Regions from separate parts of the Homo sapiens genome. Here region 1 is linked to region 2. The links come from fine-mapping of genetic effects on gene expression. A gene starts in region 2. The other region holds a variant in brackets. All regions are shown on one strand. Distances are from middle to middle.

Region 1 (2,915 bases), 980 kb after region 2:
AAGGAGAAAGGTGTGCTGTACCTGTTAACTGCTATATTATTCTGAATAATTAGAATGAAGACCAATATCTGACTTCTGGGTTTCTGACTTATATGTGGGGCACAGCAACAGGGAATGAAGGCACAGTGAACATGCAGAATTCAGCATCTTTCCTCAGGCTCTGGCCATCTGAGCACACTTGGTTTTAGTGAAGTTAGCTTATAGGCAGTTCTAGAAACAAATTTAGGGAGGATTTGGGGCCCTAAGCCTAGAGATTCCAAGGTCCTTGTATAGGTTAACACAATAGAAATGCATGTACCAGGTACAGAAGAGAGGGCCCTCATCAGGACTGGGGTACAAACTGGGGACTTGGTCCAGACACAGGTGACATCTCGTGGCTCAACCGAGGCACAGGACCACAGTGAGACAACAGCAAGGGTACCTTGGAGCAGAGCCTAATATATGGGGTGGAATTACAGGGCTTAAATCAGTGCTACCTCTTCTCAGGAGTAGCGCAGAGGACCATGGGCAGGCTGAGTATGCAGATAAGGATTATATGACTCCAAAGGTAAGGAAAAGCTGGGAGTTGGGCTGGACCTAATCCATGTTGCATGGAGCTGCTTCACTGCCCTGTCTGGGCCTCACCTTCTTGGTGAGCAAGCAATCTGGTACCATGCCCTTTGGTGAAATCAGGCATGGAACAGGTGACTGACCTTGGGGAACGAAAGCCAAGCTGCCATTCATCACAGCCCATGGTGCAAACCTCTAAGGTAAGCCTTGGAGCCTCCAGCGCCCCAGCGGTGGGGCATCCGTCCTCTGGGCAGGGAGCTTCAATTCACACAGCAGGAGAGCCATAACATAGCAGGAGACACACAGAAGGCCTTTAAATGTCTATTTTTTAAAGTGGTTAGCAAAGCAGGAGAGAAACTGTCAGAGATCCGCAATGCAGAGTTTAATCTGGAAAGTCAGTGAAGAGGTGGAAGGAAACAGAAAACAGGAGACTGGAAGAAGAGGCTTCAGGATTTGGGGAGAGCAAAGCAAAAAGTGTTAACAAGAAAAAAAAAACAGTTGCATATCAGAAACTGCTCAATTCTCATGTCAACATTTACAGAACACTGTTTTCCATTTTTCCGACTGCTCTATGCATTTGACAAATTTTTACTTGTTCTTAATTCTAGCTCAAAGTTCACCTCCTTTAGACAAAGCCATACCCTCTTCTGGCCTCTGTTTTAATAGATACAATGTTTGTAATAGCATATTTCAAAATATTGTGTAATGAATTGTGACTCTGGATATTATAGCCACTCATCATTTTCTTGAGGATATTTATCCTTATATCCCCAGGACTTAGTAAAGTTCCTGGCACATATTAGCTAATGGTCAATTAATGGTCACTTAATGAATAGAAGATTAATGAATGAAGAAGGAACCAAGGAGGGAAGATGCTTTATGACTGTACAGGGTGCATGCGAGGGGAGGCAGGAAGTGAGATCTATAAAGGTGTCTTAGCATATCATGCTGGTGATGTGAGCCAAGCTAAGCATTGCAGCTTTCATCCACTGGCAAGGTAGCATAATAAAAGGCTGTAAAGCAGAATGTTTCAAAGAGCTGTTCCCCCAGTGCCATCTTCACTCTATACGTTATTAATCTCATTTCTTCCCTACTTCGAACTAATGTGCTCACATTCAAAGATTTGGCATATATAGACCCATT[C/T]AAAACAAAATGTTTCAAGTTCTCCAGAAAATAATCCTAAACCTCAACTTCTTCAAGAAATAATCCTAAAATAACCTCCCATCAGCTTCTTTGTTACTCAGTATTTTATTCTTAACTTATTGTAACCTTGTACCTATTTATTTGTCCCTTGGGAGATGATGGTTTTCTTTAAGAGTTATGAGTGTACTTTCTAGTGCCAAACTTGGGTTCAAAGCCTAGCTCATCCACCCACAAGCTTTCTGTCTTTAACTAAATTATTTAATATCACTGAGTCTCAGTCTGTTCACCTCTATAGGCATGATAAATAATGCCTACCCACATGATTTCGGTAAGAATTGAAGGCTATTGTAAAGTTTAAACATGAACTAAACAATCAATACCAGCAGCTAGTAATAGTGGTTCTGCCAATATTAGTTAAAAATAATAATAATAGTAAGTTTGTTCTTATGCCCTGGCATACTCTCTGGGAGAAAGAATCATCTTCTCTTTCTTAGGTTATTATTTCTTTTTCTCTCCCCTCCTACAACTGCACATCTGCCTCTTCCCTTCACAGTATTTTGCAATTCTCTGTGTGACTCAAAGCAGAGCTCAGGTTATGCATGACAGCTGCCTCTTCCACTGTGCCCTGGCACCATGGATGTCACTGCCATCCTCCACCCCATGCATGAGCCAGAACCCTGGGCTCCTTCTGACTCACCATTCTCCCTCACCCCCACCATACACAGTTCATCAGGCTCTGTGAATCCACATCCTGAACGGCTCCTGATGCTGGCCATTGCTCTCCATGTGTGCCATCACCTTCAACAGGTTACCTGCATCTCCAACCCAGACTGCCACCAGAGCCTCCTGACTGCCCTCCTGAGGTCGCCTGTGAGAAATAAAAATGGAATCCTAAGCCCCCCAACTGAATGGACCCTCTATTGGCCAAGGGGACCCCAGATTAACCTTAAAAATTGAGTTCTCAGCCATGACAGGATGAGAGGTCAGACATGCCTCAGTATATCCCTCCCTCGCTAACCATGTTAGGCTTTCCTCCCTAAGGGATAAACAGAAACTAGCTCTTTGGAAAGACTCCACTTTTGATACCAACAAACCACCTGATGCTGCCCCTCCTTTTTTTGCCTGAGAAAAGACCACTGACCATGCAGTGGTTCTGGCCAGTCTATGGAGAATGTGCAGTAAAGGCTTTTGTGTCCTCTGCTTCACCTTTTGACATCAGAGAG
Region 2 (2,915 bases):
GGGCACCTGTAATCCCAGCTGCTCGGGAGGCTGGGGCAGGAGATTCGCTTGAACCCGGGAGGCGGAGGTTGCAGTGAGCCGAGATCGCACCACTGCACTCCACCCTGGGCGACCTGGCAAGGCTCCGTCTCAAAAAAAAAAAAAAAAAAAGAAAAAGAAAATACCGGGCGTGGTGGCAGACGCCTGTAGTCCCAGCTACGCGGGAAGCTGAGTCACGAGAATCGCTTGAACCCGGATGGCGGAGTTTGCAATGAACCGACATCGTGCAACTGCGCTCCGGCCTGGGCGCCAAAGCGATACTCGGTCTCAAAAAGAAAAAAAAGAAAACAGGAGAATAATGAAATTTTACTTATTTATTTTATTTATTTTTTATTTTTTTGAGACCGAGTCTCGCTCTGTCACCCAGGCTGGAGTGCCCTGGCGCAATCTCGGCTCACTGCAACCTCTGCCTCCCGGGTTCAAGCGATTCTCCTGCCTCAGCCTCCCGAGTAGCTGGGACTACAGGCGCCTGCAACCACGCCCGGCTCATTTTTGTATGTTTAGTAGAGACGGGGTTTCACTATGTTGCCCGGGCTGGTCTCGAATTCCTGAGCTCAAGTGATCCTCCCGCCGCTGCTTTCCAGCGTGCTGGGATTACAGGCGTGAGCCACCGCGCTCGGCCAAAAGTTTTAAATTTCAGTAAGTTCCAATTTATCAACTTTTTCCCTGTATAGATTGGTCTTTTGGTGTCGTCTAAAAACTATTTGCCTGGCCCTAGGTCCTGAGGATTTTTTTTAACTTTTTTTTTCCCCATAAGTGATTTATTGTTTTACATTTAAATCTATGATTCATTTTGAGTAAATTTTGTATAAGGTGAGAGGTTTAGGTTGAGGTTCTTTGGGTCTATATTCGTCCAATTGCTCCAGCATCATTTGTTGAAACGGCTCCTGATTCCATTTTTGTACCTTTCCCCCGTTCATTTCCCCTTAGAGCAGTGGGAATGTTTTTTTGTTAGTGATGATGTCATGCCTTGTGCAAAATCTGTATTAGCATCTCACAACATAAGATTTGGCTCTATTCTAACGGCATTTTCCACCACTCGATGTCCACCGTAATACTTGGCTCTCGAAGAATCACTGGGCTGGCTCCCTCACTTCATGCAGGTCTATTCTATTATCACTTACTCAGAGATTTCTCTGGCCTTTTCTTCACAGCACTTACAAAATGCGATCTATTACATATTAATTTGCTTATTTGCTTCTTGTTTTCCTATACTCCCATCCCTCCCAGAAGCTCCAAGAGAGCATACTGTTTTATCCCTAGGGCCTAGAATAATGCGTCCACGTAGTAGGTACTCAAAATTTTTTGCTTGACAGGCTAGAAAAGGTGAATAAACACAAAGCGGGAGCGAAAAGTCTACTTCTAGGTCAGGCACTCTTTGGACTTCACGCAACGTGTGAGCGCCACCTCTCGGGAAGCCAATTTGCTCGCGAACGAAGGAAGTGAGTCAGAGAACCCGGGGGTGGAGAGAAGAAAGCAAGCAGCTAACCGGAAAGGTCTGAAAAAGCTAGCGCCGGAAGTTAAACTGCAGAAAGTTGTTCCCTAGAATGACTGCCTACTCCCAAGAGGAAGCGTGGGCGAGCGGTGTTCTGCAAAATGGGCTCTCCGGCAGCGGATCTGCGCAGAAGCGTTCCGTGCGTGCAAGTGCTGCGAACCACGTGGGTCCCGGGCGCGTTTCGGGTGCTGGCGGCTGCAGCCGGAGTTCAAACCTAAGCAGCTGGAAGGGTAAGAGGTGTTCGGGATCCTGAGAGGAAAAAGAAAGGAGTGTAGTCGCGGGAGTGGGTTAGGTGAGGAGTTAGTGAAGAGATGAGTTCAGCTCTAAGAGGCGGCGAGGAGGATCGGATGGGAGGAGGGGCAGGGAGCGCCTGTGGACAAGTGCAGACCGGTCGGCGCACGTCCCACGCCACGTGGACTCGCCTTTGTCGGTGGCCGCCTTTCTCGTCAGGCCGCGACGACAGGGCTGTGCCTTATTTGTGTCTGTCGAGAGCAGTGCCGGGCACGGAGTTGGCGCTCTGTAAGTGCTTGCTGAATAAATGACGGGTGTGTGTGTCATTCATTCAGCAAGCACTGAGTGCTTACTGTTGTGTCACCGGGACCGATGTGGAGGGACATTTTTAGGGTGTATTTCTGGCGCTTTAGTCCTGTTTTCTCCTGGACAATTTATGCTTGCCCCGCACCCCATCGTGCGATTCTCCGCAGTCTTTGGGCTTTGTCTCTCTCTCTTTTTTTTTTTTTGGAAGTTGCAGAATGGTGATAAATGATTTTCTTTGCTCCTATTGACTGCTAGGCCCTGTGGCTAGGTACCATAGAGTCTCTACACAGGACTAAGTCAGCCTGGTGTGCAGGGGAGGCAGACACACAAACAGAAAATTGGACTACAGTGCTAAGATGCTGTAAGAAGAGGTTAACTAAAGGACAGGAAGATGGGGCCAAGAGATGGTGCTACTGTCTACTTTAGGGATCGTCTTTCAAGGCGAGGGGCCTCCTATCTCAAGCTGTGATACAGGGTAGGTCATGAGCGCAGTCTTCTGTAAAATGAGGGATCTGGACGGAATAGTTACTCTCTAGGCTTCCTTTCAGTATGATGTCCCGTATCAGATATTCCTAATGTCTGTAGTTCTCCCACACCCCACCGTTTATTGGCTAGTCAAAATATTCTTTGCATTGTAAAGTGTAGCATAACATTACAAGAATGGATTAATGGGTTGGGAATGCTGGGTTTTGGCCTTCATTCTGGTGCTGTGGTCCTGTTTCCTCATTTGTAAAATGAAGGGGGTTGTAAAGATATATTCTCTAAAACCCCTAATGCTATGGCTGTGGCATTAAGTCAAACTATTATTTCTTACTGCTTTGTACCGGACATCACTTTCACATTA

What was found. PIP is the estimated chance that this variant, and not a neighbour inherited with it, causes the effect.
Region 1: its variant is fine-mapped to the expression of NME1 in amygdala (GTEx, PIP 0.95).

The regions. Positions count from the first base shown.
Region 1 is chr17:52,132,490-52,135,404 of GRCh38, forward strand. The region is part of intron 1 of CA10 (carbonic anhydrase 10); the gene reads right to left. Among named protein-coding and RNA genes, the nearest start is that of CA10, 25 kb to the right of the region's middle. The variant C/T (reference allele first, on the strand shown) is at 1,693.
Region 2 is chr17:51,151,899-51,154,813 of GRCh38, forward strand. NME1 (NME/NM23 nucleoside diphosphate kinase 1) reads left to right here and starts at 1,661. Exons shown (of 5, transcript NM_000269.3): 1 at 1,661-1,764. NME1-NME2 (NME1-NME2 readthrough) reads left to right here and starts at 1,661. Exons shown (of 9, transcript NR_037149.2): 1 at 1,661-1,764; 2 at 2,327-2,546. RefSeq lists enhancers at 974-2,173, 1,197-1,728, 1,512-1,931.